2 separate regions of the Homo sapiens genome follow, and region 1 is linked to region 2. The links come from fine-mapping of genetic effects on plasma protein levels. Region 2 holds a variant in brackets. A gene starts in the other region. All regions are shown on their reverse strands.

Region 1 (5,373 bases), not on the chromosome of region 2:
TAATTGATACCTCGTATCTTAATTCTCTCTTTTCTAGGGGGAGAAGGAGTTTCTATGTTTGCTCATTAGTGGTATTCTCCAAAAGTCTTCAATACTTGACTTTGGACCATTTTAGTATTTGTTTTGATAACTGATTTTTTTTCATTATTTTCCCTTTTATAGACTTGTGTTAAAATTAGCTGGCATTTGCTGAAAGAAGAGATCAGGATTAGATTCAGCTGTGTGTAACAGAAAAAAAAACAACAGACACTTAAAATACATAGAAGTTTCTTTCTCTCCTGCATAAAAAAGGCCTAGAGGAGGGCAGTCCAGGGCTGTTTTTGTACCGACTCCACAAAGTCGTGAGAGGCTTTGCCAGTTCCTCCTCTGCCATTCCCTGATGAGGCCTCATCTTCCTCATCCCCACTGTCCAAGGTGGCAGCTAGAGCTCCAGCCATCACATCCAGCAGGACAGAGGGCAGGATGAAGAGGGACAAGCCACCTACCTTTACAACATACCTGTTGGCATCTTGTTGGCCAAAATTCAGATGTGTGACCTCACCTAGCTACAAGGGAGGCTGGACAATGAGCCCAGATAAAAATCAGGATCTTACTACTGAGGACTAAGGGAAGAACGAGTATTGAGAGCCAGCCAACTGTCTCTTCCACAGGCAAGCATACAAGCTGTGTTGAAGACAACCCATTCATATGAGAATCATGATGTTTATGATGACGATGACGATAGCTAATATTTACTAAATAGCTGCCATTTGTAGGCACTGTTTTAGGAACTTGATATGTATTACTTAATCCTTACCACACCCCTATGAAGTAGATACTATGACTATCCTCATTTTACAGAGGAGGAAACCAAGGCACAGAGAGACTAGGTAATTTTTGCAAGGTCACCCAGCTAACAGGCAACAGAATCTAGATTTGAACTGAGGTAGCCTGACACAAGACACAACTATGAATAGAGGCAATCACAGAACCAAGTCAGGGAGGCCAACTGGGGCTTTGCCAAGGGGCTTATCTATTGACTCAGGAGTGGAGAGATGGGACCTAAGCCAGAGCTGCCTCATCACTTTGCCTTTGAATATTTCATCTGTTCATCCATTCAACACAAATGTCCTTTTGTAATACACCTTACATTTGCAATTCACTGTCCAAAACCTGTGCTTGCCACTCCTTGTGGGGCAGATACTGTATCCTCAGCAGCCAGCATAGCCTATAGCACACAGCGCTCAAAAGATATCTGTGAGCCAGGTGTGCTGGCCCTGTAGTCCCAGCTTCTTGGGAGACTAAGGTGGGAAGAACATTTGAGGCCAGTTCAAGACCAGCCTGGGCAACATAGGGAGACCCCCCCCATCTCTACAAAAAAATTAAAAAATTAGCTGGGTGTGGTGGCACACCTGTAGTCCTAGCTCCTTAGGAGGCTGAGGTGGGAGGATCACTTGAGCCCAGGAGCTTGAGGCTGCAGTGAGCTATGATTGCACTTGGGCAACAGGGCAAGGCCCTGACTCTAGTATCTTATCTATATATAGATATAAATACGTAAGTGACTGTGCATGTACATATCAAGCCTACTCTGTGCCAGGCTCTGTGATGGGCACTGAGCATGCAGAAATGAGACACACACCCTGCTCACTGGCCCTTATGGCCAACAAAAGGAGGCAGATGAGCGGGCACCACAAGGAGCAGCACAAAAGAGTGGGGACCTCCATGGTGAAAAGTCTGGAGTGGCTGCACTGTAGTTTATGAGTCACAGCAATAAGGGACAAGGTCCTCAAGGTAGGCCAGAGACAGACTTGAAATTCCTTTCATGTCCAAGGTGAGAAACCTAGCCTCAGCCCTGAGGCAATAGGGAGCCATGAGGCTTTAAGCAGGGTGACATAATCTGAGAGGCCATCTAGAACAACTCTCCTGGTAGTGTGCCAAGGATAGGAGGAGAGAGCCCAGAAGTAGGGAGATTCAGATGAATCTGGGAGGTGTGGGAGCCAAAGTGAAGGGTTTGGAAGAAGAAAGGAGGGGTGGAGTGAGGAGAAACAAAAGAGGTCCCATACCTATTGCATGTGAGCCAGATGGGCCAGGGAACTGTGGGAGGGGAAAAGAGTGGGCCTGAGGTGGCCAGAGTGAGGGGGGCTGGGGAGGGGGACTGGAGAGGGGCCCTGGCCTGAGCTGGGGCAGACAGAGCAGTTGGACGCCAGCAGCCTTGTGCTCATGGCTCAGAAATGTCCCAGGCCTGCCAAGAAACTGCTGCCTCTGTCCCCCCACCAGCCCCAGCCAGGCTCCCACATCAGGAGCTCTGAAACTGTCCCCTCAGCCTTCTGCTCCCCCAGAGCAGGCCTCCCGTCCCCAGAAGCCAGGCATATGACACCCCCACTCTCCCTCAGCCCTCCCCCTCAATGGCTGATGAAACACAGGCCAGGGAAGGAGGGGAAAGAATAAACAGACATCTGCAGGGGGGCCCATCAGGAAGTAGGGGGCAGGCTGCGGCGGGCTGGGGCTGCCTGGGGGCGCCAGGGGGCCCACAGGTCTAGCAGGGTGGGTGGCAGATGGCGGATAGCGGATGGAGTGGGATCCAGGGAACAGTTGGAGCCAGCAGGGAGTTAACGTCTGCAGTACTTTGCCCGACAGGACTAATGAGACACAGGTGGTCCCCTGGCTCCAGCCCCACCTCCCAGCCCCCTGATAGTGTAAACTGATGCTGGTTGTCTGGGGTGGGGAGAGGGGGGTTCTGCAGCTACGGGAAGGGGGGCGGGGCTGGGGCGGCTGGCGGGGGCCCAGCGCATAACTCTGGGCGGTTGCAGTCTGGGGCCGCAGACACCCAGCCACTCTGAGCAGAACTGACAGCATGAAGGTACGGGGCCCAGGGTCGGGGGACTCATAGCATGGGGGAACTGAGCCCACTCCAGAGGCCCCTGGCCACAGAGGGCACTATGAAGGCACAAGGAGTTCTCTTGAAACTCGTAAGCTATGAGGGTACACAGCGTCCCAGAGAGTGGGGTTACTTGGCGGGCGGGGTGGGGGGGCAGGGAAGAGGGGCCAAATAGCAGGAGAGGGATTCAGGCAAGGGCAGTATGTGCATGCATGGTGGGGGCAAATGCAAAGAGAACAGGGGATCTCTGGAGCTGGGAAGGGGCTGTGCTGACCCTGTCTGCCCATCGCCAGGCACTCCTGGCCCTGCCGCTGCTGCTGCTTCTCTCCACGCCCCCGTGTGCCCCCCAGGTCTCCGGGATCCGAGGAGATGGTAAGCAGCCCCACACTCACAGACGCGGCCTGGCCCACAGGTTGTGCAAGAAGAGGCTGGACTGTCAGAACAGACTGTCAGGGCCGAGCCCCAGCTCTGCAGGACTCAGGTTCCTCCTTTACAAAATGGGGCAGATGGATGACATAAGCATTGCTCATCTCCCTTGAAGAAATCTTCCATGACTCCTTGTGTCAAAGTCCCCCAGCCCCAGGGACTGAGGCAAACCTTGGGGTGCTGAGGTGTCAGTGATGCCATAGTCCCACTCTCCTCACTGTCCCCATGTCCCTACCCCCAGCTCTGGAGAGGTTTTGCCTTCAGCAACCCCTGGACTGTGACGACATCTATGCCCAGGGCTACCAGTCAGACGGCGTGTACCTCATCTACCCCTCGGGCCCCAGTGTGCCTGTGCCCGTCTTCTGTGACATGACCACCGAGGGCGGGAAGTGGACGGTGAGTGGGAGGAGGGAACAGAGGCCAGAGCTGGTTCTAATCCCAGCCCTGTGACCCTGGGCTTCACATATGCGAACCTCAGTTTCTTCATCTTTAAAATGGGGATAATGATACCCACAGCACAGCTTCTGAGCAGCTGCCAACGCTTAATTCTAAGTGCCTGAGGTAGGTGTTTGTTTGTTTGTTTTGAGGCGGAGCCTCACTCTGTCATCCAGGCTTGAGTGCAGTGGCTCCATCTCAGCTCACTGCTGGAAACTCCACCTCCCAGGTTCAAAAGATTCTCCTGCCTCAGGCTCCCGAGTAGCTGGGATTACAGGCATGTGCCACCATGCCCAGCTAATTTTTTTATTTTTAGTAGAGATGAGGTTTCACCATGTTGGCCAAGCTGGCCTTGAACTCCTGACCTCAGGTGATCCGCCCGCCTCAGCCTCCCAAAGTGCTGAGATAACAGGCGTGAGCCACCGCGCCCAGCTGAGGTAGGTTAATGCACATAAGCCTCACAATAATCCTGGGAAGTAGTGAGGAACTAAAGCCCAGAGAGGTGAAGTAACTTGCCCAGATCCCACAGCTAGGCACTCGAACTCTAGAACGCCTCCCTCTTAGCCTCTTTCCTGCCTCTATACGAAACTGGGTATGAAGAGCCCAGGTGGGTGCTGGCAACTGCTCCACAGGGGGCCTGGTGCCAATGTGGACGTTGTTTTAGCAACCCCACTCCCACCACCCTCCCCACCCCCAACCCAGTCCTTTAACAAACTGGCCACAGCATCACAGGGTCCATGCTTGAGGTGGGCAGGGCAGGACCAGAACCTTGCCCATTGGACCCTTGATGATCCAGTCTCATCTTCTCTGCTCCAGGTTTTCCAGAAGAGATTCAATGGCTCAGTAAGTTTCTTCCGCGGCTGGAATGACTACAAGCTGGGCTTCGGCCGTGCTGATGGAGAGTACTGGCTGGGTAAGGCAGGGACCAGGTGGGCTGAGGGGCTGCCCCAGGGCCAGGTCCTTGTTGACCAGCTGCCCCTCCTCCCCAGGGCTGCAGAACATGCACCTCCTGACACTGAAGCAGAAGTATGAGCTGCGAGTGGACTTGGAGGACTTTGAGAACAACACGGCCTATGCCAAGTACGCTGACTTCTCCATCTCCCCGAACGCGGTCAGCGCAGAGGAGGATGGCTACACCCTCTTTGTGGCAGGCTTTGAGGATGGCGGGGCAGGTATAACCCGCTGTTAGCTTTGGGAGGGGCTGTGAGGGGAAAGAAGGCAGGGCTGGCCCTGCCCAGTCAGCCCCAACCTCCTTCAGGCCCCTCCTTCAACCCTTCTGGATCTGGAAGGGCCACAGCTGGCTCCAAACAAGCTCAAACCAGCTTGGGCCTCAGCCCTGGGGAGCAGCCATCCTGGCCCTGCTCCAGGCAACTCTGTGGTGGAGCAGCTGTTTCTCTTCATTGCAGAAGCACATCAACCCAACATCTGGCTCAGGGAGGGTGCCCCCATCCCGCCAGGCTGCCACGTGATATCTCTCACAGTCGTCATTGTCACCCTCTCCCGGCCAGCTCGGGGCTCAGTTCCCTGCCTCAGCAGCCCCAACCCTTCTCTCCTCTGCCAGGTGACTCCCTGTCCTACCACAGTGGCCAGAAGTTCTCTACCTTCGACCGGGACCAGGACCTCTTTGTGCAGAACTGCGCAGCTCTCTCCTCAGG
Region 2 (5,373 bases):
CACGCCCCGCCTGGCCATTATTTCTTCACATTTTTTTTTTGGACTTCTTCCTGCCCTCTTAGGGATTCCAATTACATGTATATTAGGCTCCTTAAATATGTGCCACAGCTCACTGATGCTCTGTTTATTTTTACTTTTTAAAAATATATTTTATTTTATTTATTTATTTTTTGAGACAGAGTCTAACTCTGTCATCTAGACTGGAGTGCAGTGGCATGATTTTGGCTCACTGCAACCTCTGCCTCCTGAGTTCAAGGTATTCTCCTGTCTCAGCCCCGCCGAGTAGCTGGGATTACAGGCACTCGCCCAGCTACATTTTTGTATTTTTGGTAGAGACTGGGTTTCACCATATTGGCAAGGCTGGTCTCGAACTCCTGACCTCAGGTGATCCGCCCACCTCGGCCTCCCAGACTGCTGGTATTACAGGCATGAGCCACTGCACCTGGCCTGTTTTTACTTTTTTTCTGTTTCACATTTCATAGATTCTATTGCTATGTCTTTGAGTTCATTAATCTTTTCTTCTGCAGTGTCTAATCTGTTAATCCTATCCCGTGTATTTAATATATTGTATCTTTCATTTCTAGAAATTTGATTTGGGTCTTTTTTTAATGTCTTTGTGTCTCTCTTTAACATGTTCATGTTTTCTTCTACCTTGGCCATATGGAAGATATTTATACTACCCATTTTAATGTCCTCATTTATTAATTCTATCAGTCGTGTCACTTTTGGATATGTTTCTATTAACTGATTTCTTTCTCTTCACAAATGTATGATATTTTCCTGCTTCTTTGCCCATCTGGTTATTTTTGATGGGATGCTAGACACTGAATTTTACCTCATTGGAAGCTGGTATTTTGTGTTTCTTTAAATATTCTTGAGCTTTGTACTTGAGTATAGTTAAGTTACTTTGAAATAGGCAGAATTTGTACACAGAATCTGGGGCTGTTTCTTTTAGACTGTCTCCAAGGTTCCTGTCTCACTTTCTAGTGACAGTGGTTGTTCTGAACTCTGTCCTTTCTGTAGGCCCACAAGATTGTGAGTTCTCTTGTACTTTGATCTGCCTATGGCCTGCTCTTAGGCTTAAAGGTGTTGACTCTTCTCCAAGATCTGCCTGCAGATTTTGTTTATTCTGCATTCCCTTTACGTTGTTGAGTTTTGTATTTTTTCTAGAGTTTATAGTTGTTATTTGTGGAAGGGTCAGGTCAGTCTGTAGGAACTTACTTGGACATTTCAAAGGATAATTCCCGAAAGGTCGTTTTGCACGTAATTTTTTAATGAAAAATTCTCATGAAGCCAATTAAATAACAAAGGGATATTTTTTTCCCCCAGGAAAGGTCAGACAAATGAAATTAATGCCTTGGTACAATTGATGACTCAGACCCTGAAACTGGATTCTAAAGAGAGCTGTGAAGATGTCCCGGTAGCAAACCCAGTGTCAGAATTCAAACTTCATCGGAAATATCGGGACACACTGATACTTCATGGGAAGGTTGCAGAAGAGGCAGAGGAAATCCATTTTAAAGAGCTACCTTCAGGTGATCAGCTTATTATTATTTTTTGTTTTTTAGACGGAGTCTCACTCTGTCACCCAGGCTGGAGTGCAGTAGTGTGATCTTGGCTCACTGCAACCTTTGCCTCCCGGGTTCAAGCGATTCTCCTGCTTCAGCCTCCCAAGTAGCTGGGACTACAGGCATGCACCACCATGCCCGGGTAATTTTTGTATTTTTGGTAGAGGCGGGGTTTCACCATTTGGCCAGGCTGGTATTGAACTCCTGACTTAAGGTGATCCTCCCACCTTGGCCTCCCAAAGTGTTGGGATTACAGGTGTGAGCCACCATGCCTGGCCTAGTTTATTCTTTTACAGCAAACTGGAGAGCATGTGTTTATTGGAGAACTGTGTCAAAACAAGGAACTAATGCCTATAAATTTTTTTGTGTTTTTAAAATTATTTCATTTGCATATCTCCATAAAAGGTATATCCTGTGTTTTGCAACAGAGGTATTCCTGAAAAGTTACATGAAAATTAATTTTTAAAAATAAATAGATAAATGTTTGTGGTTTTTCATGTGACTTTTCTTCAAGTTAGACAGTTGTGGTGTTTTTTAGGTTTAAGAGATGGTAGTGAAGCTTAAGTTCATATGTAAATTTTAAGTCATTAAACCAAACTCTTGTCAGAGGGAAAAAAGAATGTCAGTATAACAAGATTTTTAAAAAAACAGCCCTGCTGGGTACGGTGGCTCATGCCTATACTTTGGGAGGCTGAGGAGGGCAGATTGCTTGAGTCCAAGAGTTTGAGACCAGCCTGGGCAACATGATGAAAACTTGTGTCTACAAAAAATACAAAAATTAGCCAGGCATAGTGGCTCATGCCTGTAGT[C/T]CCAGCTACTCAGGCGGCTGAGGTAAGAGGATTTCTTGAACCCAGGAGGTTGAGGCTGCAGTGAGCCATGAGCATGCCACTGCACTCCAGCCTGAGCGACAGAGCAAGATCCTGTCTCAAAAAATCAGATGAAATGAAATAAAAATAAAATAATAAAATAAAATACCAAAAAAAAAAAAAAAAGGCTTGGTGTGGTATCATCATGCCTGTAATCTCATTGCTTTGGGAGGCCAAGGTGGGAGGATTGCTTGAGGCCAGGAGTTCAAGACCAACCGGGACAACATAGACCCCATCACTGCAAAAAATTTAAGAATTAGTTGGACATGGTAGTGCATTCCTGTAGTTCTGGTTACTTGGAAGGCTGAGGCAGGGTGATTGCTTGAGCCCAGGAATTAGAGGCTATAGTGAGCTATGGTCACACTGCACTACATCCCTATGACAGTGCAAGACCCTGTCACTTAAAAAAAAAAAATAGGCCGGGTGCAGTGGCTCATGCCTGTAATCCCAGCACTTTGGGAGGCTGAGGTGGGTGGGTCACGAGGTCAGGAGATCAAGACCATCCTGGCTAACACAGTGAAACCCTGTGTCTACTAAAAATACAAAAAATTAGCTGGGTGTGGTGGTGGGCCCCTGTAGTCCCAAATAGTCGGGAGGCTGAGGCAGGAGAATGGCATGAACCTAGGGGGTGGAGCTTGCAGTGAGCTGAGATCGTGCCACTGCACTCCAGCCTGGGCGACAGAGCAAGACTCCGTCTCAAAAATAAAATAAATAAATAAAATAAAATACAAAATTTTAAAAAATTGCAGTGTTCTTGCTATAGTGGTAAAAGTGTTTATTTTTCCCTTTGTCTTTGTTGTTGCCTTTTAGCTATTATGCCAGGTTCTGAAAAGATCAGGAGACTAGTTGAAGTCTTGAGAACTGATGTAATTCGTGGCCTGGGAGTTCAGCTTTTAGAGCAGGTGTATGATCTTTTGGAGGAGGAGGATGAATTTGATAGAGAGGTGAGTGTCTCATTAACTGTATCAAGATGCTTATGTTATAGAATTTTTTAAACAACCTTTTGAAATATAAATCACACATAACAATTCACTCATCTAAAGTGTATAATTCAGTGGTTTTTAATGTGTTTACAACATTGTACAGTCATTACCACAATCGATATTAGAACATTTTCATTACGCCCCAAGAAGCCCTGCACCTGTTAGCAGTCACTCCCCATGGTCCGCACTGCCAAATCTGAAGTCATGAAGATTTATTTTTATATTTTCTTCTAAGAGTTTTTTTGGTTTCAGCCCTTTTAGGTCTTGGACACTTTTTTTTTTTTAAGGAAAATTTAAACTTTAGCTTGGGCATGGTGGCTCACGCCTGTAATCACAGCACTTTAGGAGGCTGAGGTGGGTGGATCACCTGAGGTCAGGAGTACCAGACCAGCCTGGCCAACGTGGTGAGTGGTGAAAACTCATCTCTACTAAAAATATAAAAATTAGCTGGGCATGGTGCCACGCACCTGTAATCCCAGCGGCAGGGGAGGCTGAGGCAGGAGAATTGTTTGAACCTAGGAGGCGGAGGTTGCAGTGAGCTGAGATTACGCTACTGCACTCTAGCCTGGGTGACAGAGCAAGACTCTGTCTCAAAAAAAATAAACTCTATTACCTATTACCTAAAACATGAGAACTATGTACATTCTAAATCAAAAATTTAGAAATTATAGTGCCAGCAGTTAAATGTGAATCATACTCAAGAATTTCTATATTGGTAGTTTTCTTTTTTTTAAATGAAATTTCATTTTATTCTGATAAAGACTAATGTATGCCTAATCACCTAGTGATAATCCATAAGTTTGGTAATTCACAACATTTTTAGAAAGCACATAATATTAACATTCAAATAAAGCATTATAGAAAGTTTTATAAAGAATGAAGTGCTAGTTGGGCAGGGATGGGTGGGACAAAAAGAAAAGAATGAAGTGTTTACTATAATTCTTTTTTTTTTTTTTTTTATGAGACGGAGTCTCGCTCTGTCACCTAGGCTGGAGTGCAGTGGTGCGATCTCAGCTCACTGTAAGCTCTGCCTCCCTGGTTCACGCCATTCTCCTGCCTCAGCCTCCCGAGTAGCTGGGACTACAGGTGCCCACCACCACGCTTGGCTAATGTTTTGTATTTTTAGTAGAGGCTGGGTTTCACTGTGTCAGCCAGGATGGTCTCGATCTCCTGACCTCATGATCTGCCCACCTCGGCCTCCCAAAGTGCTGGGATTACAGGCGTGAGCCACCAGGCCCGGCCTGCTATAATTATTTTTAAAAACCTTGGTTCATCTTGAAAGATCAATGGATTTTTAAAATATCAGAAGAAAAGGAAAATAAATTCCCCCCCGCCAAAAATACATAAGAACCACTTACTGGCACTTGTATTTTAAGTACCTGGGAAAAAACAGGACAGATTTTTAAAGGCAATTAATAACAGCTGTTACAAGGGCTTGTTTCATTTGATTTAGCACCAAGTAAAATAAGAGTAAATATGCCACGGAAGACATAGTCGGGTTTTTCCTCCACTTCTCATATTGCCCCACTTCTCCTACTAGACCACACAGTACATCAGCAACCATCCTTGTTGCCCCACTAAGGAATCACTTTAGATTCCAATTTTTAAATGGCTGGTCAGATGACACCAGTAGAGTTCTTTCCCCTTAAGATAAGGTGGCAGTGAATGCTAACAGGTATCAATTTATTTGATCAGAAACAAACAACTCCTTCAGGAAATTAACTTACTTTCCTGATCCTTGTTAACTTATCATGTAAATTCTTTTTATTGGCACACCTGTTTACTAATTATGATTGATTGCTATTTTTGGCAAAGGAACATTCCCCAGGCATGCCTGAGCTATTTACTAATGACAAAGTGTGCTTACTTTACATAGTGCCATGGGTTTTCTCTTTTTCTCTTATTTTTGGGAGGGTTGTACAATACCTTGTTATTTATCAGGGCAGATCTCATACA

Direction of the effects. Alleles are on the strand shown, and positions count from the first base shown. The strength of an association depends on the size of the effect and on how common the allele is.
For the plasma level of the protein whose gene starts at base 2,799 in region 1, T is the low allele of the variant in region 2 and C is the other (weak association).

What was found. A credible set is the group of variants that fine-mapping cannot tell apart. PIP is the posterior inclusion probability: the model's chance that the variant is causal. The UK Biobank Pharma Proteomics Project read protein levels with antibody pairs (Olink). The fine-mapping took linkage between variants from a reference panel, not from the people measured, so its PIPs are less certain.
Region 1: MFAP4 starts here. The variant in region 2 is the best candidate, but not a certain one, in a credible set for the plasma level of the MFAP4 protein (UK Biobank, PIP 0.53).

The regions. Positions count from the first base shown.
Region 1 is chr17:19,384,616-19,389,988 of GRCh38, reverse strand. MFAP4 (microfibril associated protein 4) reads left to right here and starts at 2,799. Exons shown (of 6, transcript NM_002404.3): 1 at 2,799-2,839; 2 at 3,151-3,229; 3 at 3,525-3,679; 4 at 4,535-4,631; 5 at 4,708-4,890; 6 at 5,280-5,373. The coding sequence starts at 2,834. RefSeq lists enhancers at 2,874-3,419, 3,420-3,965, 3,966-4,511.
Region 2 is chr3:52,735,591-52,740,963 of GRCh38, reverse strand. It overlaps NEK4 (NIMA related kinase 4), which reads left to right. Exons shown (of 16, transcript NM_003157.6): 14 at 1,330-1,535; 15 at 3,245-3,378. It also overlaps the pseudogene LOC100499399. Among named protein-coding and RNA genes, the nearest start is that of SPCS1, 32 kb to the right of the region's middle. The variant C/T (reference allele first, on the strand shown) is at 2,378.